2 separate regions of the Homo sapiens genome follow, and region 2 is linked to region 1. Evidence: fine-mapped expression QTL. Tissue or cell type: esophagus mucosa. Region 1 holds a variant in brackets; the other region holds the start of a gene. All regions are shown on one strand. Distances are between the middles of the regions.

Region 1 (8,106 bases):
GAGGAGGAGGTAGCAAAGCTCTTGAAAGTGATTGACAGTGGGGGCAACCCATCTCTACACCAAGTCACATTGATTCCACAAAGGCCTTAACATAAATTGAAAGAAAACACTAGAATGCAGACATCCTGTTTATTGAATATTATATTTCTTAGGATCTTGGATCATTTGTATTTTTTATCACACAGTGGACCATAACAACTATTTCCCCAGATGTGATATTGTTGATTTTTCTAATCTAAAAGCATTAGATCATAAATAATTGGTATGACTTTCCACAGAACGCCAGCTGTGCCGCTCCTGATATCTGGGTGTCTCTGAAAATCCAGGGTCCATGGGAACAAATGTCTTTACATTGGCTCAAAAACCCACAATGAAAAGCCAGAGCGCTTCAGCCCTCTGCGTTCATCCGATAACACGCCCAATGGGAACGGATGCAGAGACTGGGGAGAGGCAAAGGGGACTCCGCCCATTTCTGAAGGTCCCACCGGGCACACTCTGTGTTTTCTGTGGGCACCATGGCTCATGCTGTGGTCAGGGTACATTTTCTGAAATGTGTATGATGCACCCAGCATAGCGCTGGGCTCTGTGCAGAAGCTGTTTCATTTACTCTTCACAAAAGAGTGGCTGAGAGGCAGAGGCCAGAGGACCCACCAGGTTCACAGTTCAGGTGACTTCTGGTCTTGCCCACTGGAAGCGGAGATGGCTCACAGCATTCCTTGTACATAGACTTTCTCCCTGGCAGGCACACAGCTCTGTTCCATGTCACCTGGGTCCCTCTTGCCGTTGTCTTTCAAAGGGCAGTTGAGATGGGAAATTCTGGCTCTGAGCCCACCAATCACGGCCCCACCAAAATGAACATTTCCGGTTCCAGAAGCAGGAGGCCTCTGGGAAAGGGCGTGGGGTGAAGGGGGGACCCAATGGAGGGCCGAGCCCAGCAGTGGAAGGCTGCGATCCAAGGCTGTTTCCAGATTCCACCTCCAGGACTGACCAGGCAGAAAGACTCCAGGTCCCCAGACTGTATTTGGTGAAATTCCTAAAACCCAGGGGGAATTGTGTAAAGCAACTCTCACATTCACTTGTTTTTTTAAGCATTATATCAGAAGACATTCTTACAAGATGAATATGCTGAAATCATTTCCAGAAAAGTTTGATTTCCTTCTGCTAACCACTCCTCATCCCTAGAGAAAGTGAATATTTCTCTTAGTATGAAGGGCAAGCATGTTAATGCTGCCTCAGATAGGAGCTGGTTCAGGCCTCCCAATGCTTAGCATTGAAAAACTCAGGTTTAAGTTGAGTTTGGCATTTGAGTAAATCCTTGCCTATGCAAGATACTTCATGAACGTTACACTTACCAGTCCTTTTCCCAGGGGTAGGGTAAGAGAGATTAAAAAGTCTGCAGTAACGGTGTCTTATGAGCAAGCTAGTTGATTTATAAGCAGTAAGCTGCACACGCTGTTGTGCACCACCTATGCATCCTGTGCAGTGAGCTGGTGAAATCTGACGAATCAAGCTGGGGCAGGTGAGCGTTGTGCTACCATCGTGGTGCTTGGAAAACACCCCAGAATAGAAACAGAAATTTCCGCAGTTTCTAAAACAATATCACGTTGCATAGATTCCAGACTCATGCTTTTGTTTTTCTAGTGAGAAAGGGAAGCATGAAGGTTGCTTTCTTCGTTCTCTGCACAGGTGATGAACAAGGCACGTCTTCGCCGTGGATTCTGCCTGCACAGAAGACCTGAGATGCGCGATGTCAGGCCCGTCCCTAACAGGAGGAAATCTCTCCATGTCGCCTTCATTTAGGATTTTTTTAAATTATAGTAAGTATAATAAAAAGAAAAACAGCTGATTTGACTCCATCCTCTTCCAAATGAACTATTTCTGTATATCTTTTGCTTTGGTGCTTAATCGGAAGTGAAACTGTTCACGGCATTGAAAGGAAAACTAAACTACCCCCCAGGGAAGGTGCCCTCCAGCGGGCACTTGCCGGTCACAGGGTGGGTCAATTCCACTTTCCCTGAAGAAGGTGGTACTTTTGTTTAGAATCATAAGAGACAAAGGACTCTCAACTGGATTTGCATGACGTCTCATGGCAGGGTTCCCAGACTTTCTAAGGAGCTGTTTGATGTCAGAATACATTGTGCTGGCTGCTCACGGGTAGCACAGGTGTTCTTACTGTCCACTAATTGAAATGAACAACCAAAAAAAATGACAAAAAGCCACTGTGAAATCAAGAGGACTCTGAAAACACATCTCTACTTTGCCAATCTCATGTGTATCTACAGATATTGACATCACAGGGTTAAGTGTCTGAATGAGGTGTTGATTCTTCTGCAGGTTGTGATGTGCACTTGGGTCCCGGGACTCTTGGGAACCCTGGCTCCAGGCACCACTAGCTCAGGGAGAGGCCTGTATTATAAATATCTTACATCAGATGTTTTGCACGACTTATTTAGTTGTGTATTTTATAAAAGTAAATCTTTCCGAGGCTGAGAATATTTATAGGTATTATACTGTACTTCCTAAATAGGCTGATTTCAGAAGAATAAAAATTAAAAAGAGAAGATACGAAGGTCACTAAAACAGGTGATGGGAAAGGCAGCCTGAGGTCCTCAAAGACCCCATCCCTAGGAGACATTTGTAGGTGCCTGGAGCCACTCCGGACCCTCTTCCCCCTACCTCGGGGCCACAGCAGTTCTCTGCCTTGCTCCATTGTGGCTTGGGGATGTATGAATGAAGGAGGCCACGCGAAGCTGCTGACGAAGGGGTCTGGGGAGCCCGGGCATCCCACACCCCACAGTTACCCCAGCAGCCTGGCATTTTAAAGCTCTTCCAGCCCACTCCCAGGCACCCCTTTTTCATCAGGACTTCCCCCCAGTTTCCCAAACAAGCGCGAGCGACAGCCTTTATCCACCGAGCTTCCCGGGCACATGCGCTCCTGTTCCCACCAGCAGGAGACCTGGAAGGGAAGCGGCCGTGTCCTGCCCGTGACGCGCGGCCTGGCTCGCCCTGTGCCCTCCCTCACCCTCCTCTTCTGCTGAACCTATGAAAAGTCCCCCGCCCCCATCACCCACCCAAATCCCAGGCTCCACATGAACTCTGTCCACCCTCGACAGGGCAGGTGTGATTTCTGTCCTGTGCCGCCTCTGGAAAGCGAGGGTCATCCAGTGAGGGTTCCTGACCCTTCCCATCCAAAGGCCGATCCACATGCAACCAAACAACTCACTTCGGAGACTAAGCGGAGACGCAGACACACTGGGAGGAGGCCAGGTGGGCACTCCATGCTGCCCTGAGTTCACCTTCAATTCTATCGGGAAGAGATTCGGTGCAGACATGCTAGAAAATTGTCCTAGTCGATCATGATAAGCCTCCACCAAAGTGAGCACAGTGACGAGGAAGGGGCATTCAGTGCCTCTCCACCTCATCACACAGGCAAGCTTGCAGCAGGGTGCTTCTTGCTGCTAATTGTTCTACCCACTGTCTACAGGAAAAACAGCGGCCTCTTGGAATGAAAACCACATTCTCCCGCCCATCGCAGTAAGTGCGGCCATGTGTGTAATTTCCGGACAAAGGATGGGAAAGAAATGGGGGCACGGCTCCGGGAGCCCTGCCCGAGGCTGCGTCCTGGCCCACAAATTCCCAGAGCAGTCTGGGCTCTGTGACCAGCCCCGAAGTCTCTGCACCTGACCTTCAAGAGAGACAGAAATAAACTTCTGCCCTGTTTAAACTCCTGACATTTTGAATATCTGTAACGAGAGCCAAACCTAATTTTTAATGAATGCAAACTCCATCTGATGGTGAGATGAGTAAAAAGGAAAATTTATTTATTCAACAAATATTTATGTATCAGGCACCTGAAATATTGCTCTTTAGTGTAGTTATACACAGTGATAATGTAAACAGACAAAAGTCCCTGTCCTCA[C/T]GATTCTCATGTTCTGGAAGGAAAGAAAGATGATAGGCAAATGAAAGCAGAGAGTTGCAAATGATGGGGCTGCTGTGAGGAAAGACAGCAGGGCGAGGTGTTTGGGGTCTGGACGCAGACAGCCCTGAGCCGACAAGAGGTTCCCATGCTGCTCCGAAAGAAGCGAGGTCCCTCAGTGACCACCTGGGGTCAGGAATTCCTGAAGAATTCCCATTTACTCTGTTACAAATTAGGTAGTTCATTTAAACTGTGCTTGAAGTCACATGTGTTATTAGTGAAAAAATGTGATCAAAGAGAAAAGACTGGAGGTGATTAATACAATATGCTAATATGATATCTAAGATGCAGAGCATGAAAGGAGAGAGCTTTGTTTCTCTCAAAAACTAAGGTGAATGCTTTGGAAAGATAGAAACTCTGTCTGCTTTACAAAAATTGCTGTTGACTTAGGAGCAGATGGAGAAATCATAAAAGTCCCAAAGCGTGTTTGTCTCTGCAGGGTTGTGAAGTCCTCACCCTACTCTGCGGAAATGAGCAGAAAATTGTCGGAGTCATTCGGCATTTGTTCATGCAAGAAAGACACAAACCCCAGTGAGTTCCTGCCGGAGAAAAAGCCTGAGTCCCCCAAAAAATATTGTGTCTAAGTGGCCATGGAAATATTTAGTTAGTATTGTGTCTAAGTGGCCATGGAAATATTTAGTTTCTGTCGGTATTTCTCTTAATGATTTCCTATTTAATCGACAATGAGCCGTTTGGAAGATACCGAAAGGGAGGGCCCTACGGTGTCAGATGTAGCTCTGTCCAGTGGGCTTCCTGTTCGTGATGGGGTGGGGCTGTACCTTCTCCGATACGGGCAGGTGGGGTGCGACAGTGGCAGGTGGTTGGTGGGGGTCTCACCCCACACAGGGTGTCATGGAAGCTTCCAGAGGAGAGAGAGGGAGCGGGAGCTGCGTCATGAATGACACTGCGGTTGTCCACAGTAGCATGTACACAGAAGGAGAACATGAAAGAACTCGGAATCTTCTTAGGACGCTCATGTGTTCTGTGAAATGGAGCCCAGGGCTTCCCTGGAGGGGCAGGAATGGTGAGTGACTGGGCTGGGGAGGGGAACGGGTAGATGGGGTCAGATCAGCAAGGCCCTCGCCTGCCCATGCATCCGACCTTCCCTGCCACGCCCAGAGGATGTTTGGCAAGGTGGAGGACTGCTCACCTCTGAGTTTGGCGAGGTCCCTCTGGCAGGGGTGGAGAAAGGGTCGCCAGGCGGCTCGTGCAGGGCAGGTGCTCTCCAGGGAAGGTCATTTGGTCGAACTTGTGCTTGGGAGTTTTTGGTGCACAAGTGATAACTGGAGCCATGGAAATGAGAGGGAGAGGGAGGGGTCAGGTGCAGGGAGAGGGAGGGGTCAGGTGCAGGAACAGAGCCCAAGGAACACCTGCATTGAAGGGACAGAGGCCCCACAGACAGGAGGAGAAAACCCAGTTCCACCAAGGTCACGAAGCCTAGGAAGCCGGGATTTCCATGGTCAGTAGTATTGAGTGCTGCAGAGATGCTGAGTACGGATGTGGTTAAGCGGCTGGGGAAGGGTGAAAGGCACCCCCAGGGACCTCGGTGAGAGCAGTGTCAATGGGAGGCAGTGCAGAGACACAGGGCCCAGCGGCTTCCAGGGCAGGTGCCGGGAAAGGGTCGCCCGGCAGAGTGGCTGCACAGAGCTGCACCCGTGCACATTGCAAACGTGGACAAGAGTGTGAACAGCTCCCCTGGGGCCTGGCCACGTGCGTGTCTGCCACGGCGCTGTCCTGAGTAGACTCGCTGTGAAGGGAAGGCAAGAATTAGAGAAAGAAGGGGACCCAGTGCTGAGGGATAATTTTCTAACCACATATGAGATGTGACTATTTCTACGCACCCAAGGAAAGGCCGGTCACAGAAGCAAACGTGGAAACTGAGGGAGGAATCGCTGGTGGAGAGCGAGCCCCAGGAGGCCTGAGACAGCGCTCAGGCAGAAACGTCCGTAAGTCAACGAGCATCAATCAAACCTGCGAGTGACCCATGGAGGCATAAGGCCACATCTGCTGACCACATCAGACCAATACCCCTTTCACTCTCATTTGAGCTTGCTGAGATGAGGCTGGACAAGAACATCTACATGGAAAAGTGTTAGAAAGAGGAGAATTTTAAATCTTATGCATGACTGGCTATTAGAAAGTATAGCCTTGGGTTTTAGATCTATTTTCAAAACCTGACCTGCATGACTCCTTATTTCTTTTTTGTGACTACAGCGTCAGAAATGTTGGGAAATTGCTTATGAAGTGATGTAAGTGCAGTGACGGACGTTGAGTCAAACTGACATCATGATGTAAATGCCATGGCTGGTTCCAGGCAGGGGCACTCATCCTTTTTCTCCAGCTTCTATCGAATGGAGTAAGTAGTGCAAAATACGTCACAGGTTGTACTTGGAGACTTTGCCGCGTGCCTTTCCTTTTTGTTTTGTTCTTTTTTTTGTGAGACGGAGTCTCGCTCTGTCGCCCAGGCTGGAGTGCAGTGGCTCGATCTCGGCTCACTGCAAGCTCCGCCTCCAGGGTTCAAGCCATTCTCCTGCCACAGCCTCCAGAGTAGCTGGGACTGCAGGCGCCCGCCACCACGGCTGGCTAATTTTTTGTGTATTTTTAGTAGAGATGGGGTTTCACCGTGTTAGCCAGGATAGTCTCAATCTCCTGACCTCGTGATCCGCCCGCCTCGGCCTCCCAAAGTGCTAGGATTACAGGCATGAGCCACCGTGCCCAGCCCCTATTTTTTTTTTTAACATTAATGTGAAGTGAAGACACAACGCGGCTGTGAGAGGGGGCAGAAGTCACAGCTCAAATGATGGGCATCCCATTTTCCAAACCACTGGGGTGGGAAGTCAACGAGGCAGCTCAGCAGGTGCCTCGGGGAGAAAGAACCGGCTGGCGTGGCTCCGTCGGGGCTCTTCAGGCATTTGGACTTTGCAGTGGCATCTCCCATGGGGGAAGCCAACGCGATCCCACTCACAATGGGCCTGAGGGGGTGCTGCCCATCCGGATTCACCTGTCCTCCAGGGTCCACGAGGGGCTCTCAGAGCTTTCATCCTCAGATCCCCGGATCCGTGCTGCCCATCACGGATTCACCTGTCCTCCAGGGCCCACGAGGGGCTCTCAGAGCTTTCATCCTCAGATCCCCGGATCCGTGCTGCCCATCACGGATTCATCTGTCCTCCAGGGCCCACGAGGGGCTCTCAGAGATTTCATCCTCAGATCCCCGGATCCAGGCGGTGGCTCTGTCTGGGGAGGGGCTGACTGCAGAGAGAACCCCCTCGCCATGGAGGTTGAGAGACAAAATGACTGGTGAAATTGCCGGAACATGAACACTCAGTAGGCGCTCGGCATTGTGCGTACTGCTGTATCTCAGCTAAATGTTGTTTCTTTTTTCGGAAGCTCCACCCTATCTCAGCCTCCTGCTCCAACTCACCACATTGGCCTGTCAATTTCATCTCTGAAACTGAAAATTTCTCAAATCCGCTCATTTTTCTCTGTTTAAGCTGCAGCCTCCAAGATCCGGGCCCTCACCCAGCCCCAGGCTGATCCTCGGTCCCCCTGGGCATGAGGACCCACATCAGGTCCCCGGCCACCCCAGAACCACAAGGAAACCTCCAGAACCCCAGCAGGAGGGTGGCATTTACACCTTCAGGATGAAGTCCGGAGAAGCCTCCCTGACCCTCCAGATGCCCACGCAAGTGTAGACCCCGCCCCCACCCCACACAAGTGTAGACCCCGCCCCTGCCCCACGCAAGTGTAGACACCACACAAGTGTAGACGCCGCCCCTGCCCCACGCAAGCGTAGACCCCGCCCCCGCCCCACACAAGTGTAGACCCCGCCCCTGCCCCACGCAAGTGTGGACCCTCCTGCTCCCTGCCCCCTGCCCCCCACGCACGCTGTGCTACGTTCCAAACTGGGGATCTCCAGACGTTCCAAACTACGTCTCCAGACTGGGGATCCTGCAGCGCCTCTGCCCCTCTCACGCCTTCCGGCCCTGCCTGCTGCCCCGCTGCCCCCCTGGCTAGCCAGTGAGCACCAGTGTCCTCTGTCTGTTGTTCTGTATTCTCGATGGGATAGGCACCAACAAAACGCTTACACAGTACAACGAGGCAGTAACGAATATCCTTGCCCCGCCACCCAG
Region 2 (8,106 bases), 100 kb before region 1:
AGAACATTCCGGAAAACACACAGATATTTTACTCAGGACAAAGGTGGCGGCAACATGCAAGAGTTCAAAAAGGACAAGATTTTTCAATAAATATTGCACTGGAATATGTGCTTAAAAACAAGTAAATTGTGACACCTCCTCCAAATACAGCACATGAAAAGCCATTCTGGGTGGATTATAGATCTAGATAAGAAAGGCAAAATGATAAGGTTTCTAGAAGACAGCATTAGGTAATGTCTTCAATAACCTGGGTGAGTAAACATTTCTTCAAAAGGGCACAAAAAGATTAATAATAAATAAGACTATGTAAAAATTAAGACCTTCTGTTTACCAAAGGACACGATTCAGAGAGCTCACATACAGGGAGAAGACATAACTGATAAAGGGCTCACCTCCAGTCTGTCTCTCTCTCTGTCACTATCTTCATCTCTCTCTATCTTTAAAAGGCATCTAAGACAAACCCACAGCTGACGTCATACTTAACAGGAAAGACTGAATGTTTTCTTTGGCCCTTTCTGTTCAACATGGTGTTAGATGTTGTAGCCAGAACAACTTGGCAGGTAAAAGAAGTAAAAGGTACCCATCCTGGAAAGAAAGCAGTAAAACTGTCTCTATTTCCAGATGACATGAGCTTCTAGGTAGAAAGTACAAATAAATTCACATGCACACACACACACCCACACACACACACAACTATTAGAACTAATAAACAAGTTCAGCAGAGTTGTAGGAATCAATATACAAGAATCTTTTTTTTTCTTTTTGAGACAGGGTCTCACTCTGTTGTCTGGCTGGAGTTCAGTGGTGCAAACACAGCTCACTGTAACCATGACCTCCTGGGTTCAATGGATCCTCTAGCCTCAGCCTCCCTCCTGAGTAGCTGAAACTACAGGTGCATGCCACCATACCCTGGCTATTTTTGTATTTTTGGTAGAGGCAGGGTTTTGCCATGTTACCCAGGCTGCTCTGGAATGCCTCAGCTCAAATGATCCACGTGCCTCTGCCTCCCAAAGTGCTGGGATTACAGGTGTGTGCCACTATGCCTGGCCTTCCAATCAATATTTAATTTTTATACACTAACAATGAATGTTCTGAAAATAAAACTAGAAAACAATTCCATGTACAATTGTGTCAAAAATAATAAAATACTTAGAAATAAATTAAGCAAGTACAAGACTTCTATGCTGAAAACTACAAAGCACTGTCGAAAGAAATTAATGAAGACCTAAATAAGTGGAAAGACATCCTATGTTTATGGTTCAGAAGATTTAATCTTAAGGTAGCAATACCTGCAATAGGTAAACAAATTTAGTTGCAATTCCCATCCAAATCCCAGATGACTTCTTTGCTGAAATTGACAAGCTGATACTAAAATTCATATAGAAATCAAAAGACACGGGCCAGGAGTAGCAGCTCACACCTGTAATTTGGGAGGCCAGGCAGGCGGATCACCTGAGGTCAGGAGTTAGAGACCAGCCTGGCCAACATGGCCAAGCCCCATCTCTACTAAAAATACAAAAATTAGCCAGGCGTGGTGGCATGTACCTGTAATCACAGCTACTTGGGAGGCTGAGGCAGGAGAATTGCTTGAGCCCAGGAGATGGAGGTTGCAGTGAGCCAAGATCGCACCACTGCACTCCAGCCTGGGCAACAGAGTAAGGCCCTGTCTCAAAAAGGAGGAGGAAGAAGAAGAAGAAGAAGAAGAAGAAGGAGAAGGAGAAGGAGAAGGAGAAGGAGAAGGAGAAGGAGAAGGAGAAGGAGAAGGAGAAGGAGAGGAAGAGGAAGAGGAAGAGGAAGAGGAAGAAGAAGAAGAAGAAGAAGAAGAAGAAGAAGAAGAAAAAAGAATCAAAAGACACAGATCAGCCAAAACAATCTTGGAAAAGAAAAAATTGGAGGACTCACATTTCCTGACTTCAAAACTTATTACAAGGCTACAATGATTGAAACAGTGTGGTACTGGCATAAGAATAGACATATATTGCAACGCAACAGAACTGAGAAACCAGAAACTGATTTCTGGATCAACTGATTTTCAACAAGGGTCCCAAGACAATTCAACAGGGAAAGAATTGTTTTTTCAACAAATGGTACTAGGACAACTGGGTATGTAAAAGAAGGGGCCCCTACCTCACACCATATACAGAAATTAATGCAAAATAGAACAAAGGCTTAAATGTAAGTGCTAAGTCTACAGCAAAATCTTAGAAATCATAGCTGTAAACTTTGTCTTTGGATTAGACAATGCTCTGTTAGATCACCCAAAGCATAAGGAACAACAACAAAGTAGATACACTGGAATTCACCAAAATTACAAACATTTTTTGCTGCAAAGGACACTATCAAGAACATGAAAAAAACTCACAACATGGAAAAATTATTTGTCAATCATGTATTTCATAAGGGAAGTGCAAATCATGTCTGATAAGGGAATTGTATAATGAATACTCACATCTCAATAACGAAAAGACAACCTAAATTTTAAAATGGGCCAAGGATCTGAATAGACAGTTCTCCAAAGGAAGTATACAACAAGCACATGGAAAGATGCTCAACGTCCTTAGCCATCGGGGAAACACAAATCAAAACCACAGGGAGATACCACTTCACATCTGCTGGACTAAAGACAGCGGTTGGTGTGCACACTGAGGAAATGGAACCCTCATACCCCGCTGGCTGCTGTGATTCCACTTGGAAAGCAGCCTGGCAGCTCCTCACAAGATTAAGCACGGTAGTCACCTACGATCCAGCCATTCCTCTCTTAGGTATAATGAAAACATATTGCCACACAAAAACTCATACAGGAATGTCCTTGCAGCGTTATTCGTAATAGCTAAAAAATGGAACAACTCACATGTCATCAGCAGATGAATGGATAAACAAAACTTGGCACAGCCATGCAGTGGAGTATTATTCAGCCACACAAAGGAATACAGTTCTGACGCAATCTGCAGCACAGACGCACCTTGAAAACGCTCACCAAAAGGAGCCCCCACAGAGACCTCCTGGCGTGTGACCCCATTTCCATGAACTTCCAGAACCTGCGGGGTGGTGGTTCTATGTGTGGGGGTGCAGGAGAGGGAATGGGGGTAGCTACCGATGAGAACAGGGTTTCTTTTGGGGGTGGTGAACACAACTTCGTTAATATACTAAAAACGAACTGTACACCTTAAATTAGGTGAGTTTTATGGTATGTGAACTGCATCTTAAGCAATTATTTTAAAAATTTAAAAAGCAAGCTGAGCAGCCTGGCCAACATGGTGAAACCCCATCTGTACTAAAAATACAAAAATTAGCCAGGTATGGTGGTAGGCGCCTGTAGTCCCAGCTACTCGGGAGGCTGAGGCAGGAGAATCGCTTGAACCCGGGAGGCAGAGGTTGCAGTGAGAGGAGATCGCGCCACTGCACTCCAGCCTGGGCGACAGAGCGAGACACTGTCTCAAAAAAAAAAAAAAAAAAAAAAAAAAAAAAAAAAAAGCGAGGTGCGGTTTCCAAACTGCAGATACCCATTGGGAAACGTGGGTAACACGGTTTTGAAATCTCTACTGCGTCTGTAATGGTAACACGGTCCTTGCAATGTGATAATGTCCCAATAGTTTATCTTTATAAACATTTTAAAACATTAACAAGCCTTTCTCCGCCTTTGTTCCACTTGCGCCTCTTTGCCCCTCTCCCCCGGGCTCCTCCTCCCGGCTGGCCCTCCCCGCTGAAGTCACGGAGGCGCTCAGCTGGCCCCGGGGTCTGGGTGCGCCCGCCCTGCCCGCAGCCGGCGAGGGGCCCTGGGGGGTCGGCGGGGCGGGTCCGGGGGAGGCCGCGGTGACCTCGGGGCGCGTGCAGACCCCGCCCTCCGCGCCTGGCCACAGATTCCAGCCCACCTTGGCGACCTGCGGAGCCGGGGGCGGAGAGAGGAGGCGCAGGAGGACCCGCGACACAGCTCGGGATCCGCGCGCGCTGGGCCTCCGGCGCCGCTCGTGGGGTTCGGGAGGCCGGGACCCTGCCCGGGAGATGTGGACGCCGGGCGGACCCCCGGGGTCCGCGGGCTGGGACCGCCGTAGGTTGGGCGCGAGGTTGCGCGCGGCGTTCGCGGGGCTGCAGGAGCTGCAGGGGCTGCGAGCCACGCAGCAGGAGCGGGTACGGGGCGCCCTGGCCCTGCAGCCCCCGCCCGCGCCCGCCGCGCCCTGCGGCCCCCACGGCCTCCACGGCCCCGAGCAGCAGCTGGAGGCGGCGCTGGCCGCGCTGCAGGAGCAGCTGGTAAGGACCGGGCGCCGGGACTCGGGGCTGCGAGGTGTGCGGGCCACAGGCGCTGCTCCTTCGGCAGCGACTGTGTGTTAGTGGGACGGGGGTGTCTGATGGATGGAGGGGACGTCCTTTGGGATTTGAATGGAATGCAGTTCGGTCTCCAAGGAGGGGGACATGGAGGCCCCGCGCGCAGGTGCCTAGAGGTGAAGCGCACAGGTGAGGACCCTGAAAACTGCCCGGGGCTGCAGCCCGCGCTCCGCCGTGCGTGGATGTGCGCCTACCCACGCCAGCATCCCGAAGCTGGCAGATTTGGGAGAGACACCCTGTTCGTTACAGGGTTACAGCACTGATCTGACCTGCAGGCACTGACCGGCGTTCCCCTGGCGGAGGTCGGCTCGGGATCCTGGCATCACTCCCCCCCCGGGGACCAGGTCCCCCCTGCTGTCTTGGGTTAGGGGCAACAGTGTCCGCGTGGTAAAGCGCACCCCGACTTGTCCTCAGGAATGTGCTGACTTTTCTTAAGGTCGCGTCACTGTAATAAAGTATTGGGGGAAAGCATGTAACTGACAAAGGCCTCTTCAACTTTAAAATGTGACCTGACCTGTAAGGAGAGGCGTGTCCTCTGATCCAGAGGAGAGAGACTCTGATTTCCCTGCCACGGGCCCTCTTCAGCACTCCCTGGGCGCTCTGAACCCCTCCTTTCACACAATGAAAGGAACTCCACTCATTACCCCTCTGCTTATTATGTTATTGTATGATTTTGTTAAACTTACTGGAAACAACTCACAAGCGTTTTCGTAGTTGCTGTATTTTCTTAAAGACAAACTAAAAAGGCTGGAGAAAGATATGTTTACTTGTGTTACCTCTGTTACACTAAGTGAAATTTCTTTTACATTAGAAATTTAAGTCTGTCCTGTTAAAAGTTACTGCCTTTAAATGTTGCCCAGGTGAAGCTGCGGCATGACCGTCTGCCTCGCTCGCTCAGCCAGGTTGTTAACATAGCAAACCCTTCTGGATTAAAGAATCAGGAAGTCCAGTGTCTGGGACGCCTCCCAGGTTCCCCGTTATCTCCTGACCTTGTGGAAGACGGAGGTGGTAGACTGTGTGGGATTAACCTGGGCCCCCAACTCTGCCCCTGATGCCTCCTGAGAGGAAAGTAGCTGGTGTACAGACTTTGTTTACTCACCCAGTGACCAAATCCTGGCCGTCTGTTTAGGTCGTTTGTGTGTTTGCACCAGACACAATCGCAGCCTCTGTGTGACCTCAGCTCAGCACACGACAGCCACAGACGTGTTACACATATGTGATGGGAAGGGAGGTGCTGCTGAGATGTTGTGTGTTTGCACCAGACACAATCGCAGCTTCTGCGTGACCTCAGCTCAGCACACGACAGCCACAGACGTGTTACACACATGTGATGGGAAGGGAGGTGCTGCCGAGATGCTGTTGTGTGTTTGCACCAGACACAATCGCAGCTTCTGCGTGACCTCAGCTCAGCACACGACAGCCACAGACGTGTTACACACATGGGAAGGGAGGTGCTGCCGAGATGCTGTTGTGTGTTTGCACCAGACACAATCGCAGCTTCTGCGTGACCTCAGCTCAGCACACGACAGCCACAGACGTGTTACACACATGGGAAGGGAGGTGCTGCCGAGATGCTGTTGTGTGTTTGCACCAGACACAATCGCAGCTTCTGCGTGACCTCAGCTCAGCACACGACAGCCACAGACGTGTTACACACATGGGAAGGGAGGTGCTGCCGAGATGCTGTTGTGTGTTTGCACCACACACAATCGCAGCTTCTGCGTGACCTCAGCTCAGCACACGACAGCCACAGACGTGTTACACACATGGGAAGGGAGGTGCTGCCGAGATGCTGTTGTGTGTTTGCAGCTCAGCACACGACAGCCACAGACGTGTTACACACATGGGAAGGGAGGTGCTGCTGAGATGCTGTTGTGTGTTTGCACCAGACACAATCGCAGCTTCTGCGTGACCTCAGCTCAGCACACGACAGCCACAGACGTGTTACACACATGGGAAGGGAGGTGCTGCCGAGATGCTGTTGTGTGTTTGCACCAGACACAATCGCAGCTTCTGCGTGACCTCAGCTCAGCACACGACAGCCACAGACGTGTTACACACATGGGAAGGGAGGTGCTGCCGAGATGCTGTTGTGTGTTTGCACCAGACACAATCGCAGCTTCTGCGTGACCTCAGCTCAGCACACGACAGCCACAGACGTGTTACACACATGGGAAGGGAGGTGCTGCCGAGATGCTGTTGTGTGTTTGCACCAGACACAATCGCAGCTTCTGCGTGACCTCAGCTCAGCACACGACAGCCACAGACGTGTTACACACATGGGAAGGGAGGTGCTGCCGAGATGCTGTTGTGTGTTTGCACCAGACACAATCGCAGCTTCTGCGTGACCTCAGCTCAGCACACGACAGCCACAGACGTGTTACACACATGGGAAGGGAGGTGCTGCCGAGATGCTGTTGTGTGTTTGCACCAGACACAATCGCAGCTTCTGCGTGACCTCAGCTCAGCACACGACAGCCACAGACGTGTTACACACATGGGAAGGGAGGTGCTGCCGAGATGCTGTTGTGTGTTTGCACCAGACACAATCGCAGCTTCTGCGTGACCTCAGCTCAGCACACGACAGCCACAGACGTGTTACACACATGGGAAGGGAGGTGCTGCCGAGATGCTGTTGTGTGTTTGCACCAGACACAATCGCAGCTTCTGCGTGACCTCAGCTCAGCACACGACAGCCACAGACGTGTTACACACATGGGAAGGGAGGTGCTGCCGAGATGCTGTTGTGTGTTTGCACCAGACACAATCGCAGCTTCTGCGTGACCTCAGCTCAGCACACGACAGCCACAGACGTGTTACACACGTGATGGGAAGGGAGGTGCTGCTGAGATGCTGTTGTGTGTTTGCACCAGACACAATCGCAGCTTCTGCGTGCCCTCAGCTCAGCACACGACAGCCACAGACGTGTTACACACATGGGAAGGGAGGTGCTGCTGAGATGCTGTTGTGTGTTTGCACCAGACACAATCGCAGCTTCTGCGTGACCTCAGCTCAGCACACGACAGCCACAGACGTGTTACACACATGGGAAGGGAGGTGCTGCCGAGATGCTGGCTTCAACTGTTCTGTCAAGGGGGTGGGAGTGCAGGTGATGATTAACTTGGCTTAAGAAATATACAAATCAAACTTGCAAGCGCTCAGTCTCTAATTACAAGTAGCCTTTTGGAAGAGAAGATCAAACAGATTTTTGTTTATTTTATTATTATTTTTTAATGTGGGGACCAGAAGGAACACGCAGACTTTGTTTTGAAACTTTGTTCTCGGGACAGATTATGTGATCAAAAGAGAAGAATAATTGAATTTGTGTGACATCAGCCCAGGGCTTAACACTTTTACATTTTTCTTACAGGGAAAAACATTAGGAGTGATAGCAGTTCTATAGTGTTGAATACAATGAACAGCCTTGCTTGCTGGAACAGTTACACACTCCAGCAGCTCCCGGCTAACTCAGGGTTCCCTCCGCCCACCCTGGTGCTCACCTGTCCATTGGTCATCATTCAGGTGTGAAGGCAGGAAGAACATTTATCAGACCTTGAGCAGATTTAGCCTGCAGGAATTCTCAGGTGAGAACGATTGTTACCATTTGCAGGGATTTAAACAGTCAGGAAAATAGCAGCACTCATCACTTCAAGGCTTGTCGCAATGTGCTGCAGCGTTTTAATTACTGTGCCACAAGAGAGTGCAGTAGAGGGTGCTTAGTAGGATTTTGCTGAATAAATAGATGAGTGACTTGTATTGCTGCAACAAAAGGGAAAATGATTT

Evidence for each region. PIP is the estimated chance that this variant, and not a neighbour inherited with it, causes the effect.
Region 2: it holds the start of DACT2, and the variant in region 1 is fine-mapped to the expression of DACT2 in esophagus mucosa (GTEx, PIP above 0.99).

What each region holds. Positions count from the first base shown.
Region 1 is chr6:168,212,303-168,220,408 of GRCh38, reverse strand. No RefSeq gene overlaps it. Among named protein-coding and RNA genes, the nearest start is that of DACT2, 100 kb to the left of the region's middle. RefSeq lists an enhancer at 4,965-5,465. The variant C/T (reference allele first, on the strand shown) is at 3,920.
Region 2 is chr6:168,315,530-168,323,635 of GRCh38, reverse strand. It overlaps DACT2 (dishevelled binding antagonist of beta catenin 2), which reads left to right and starts at 3,859. Exons shown (of 4, transcript NM_214462.5): 1 at 3,859-4,248. The coding sequence starts at 4,003. RefSeq lists a silencer at 942-1,110.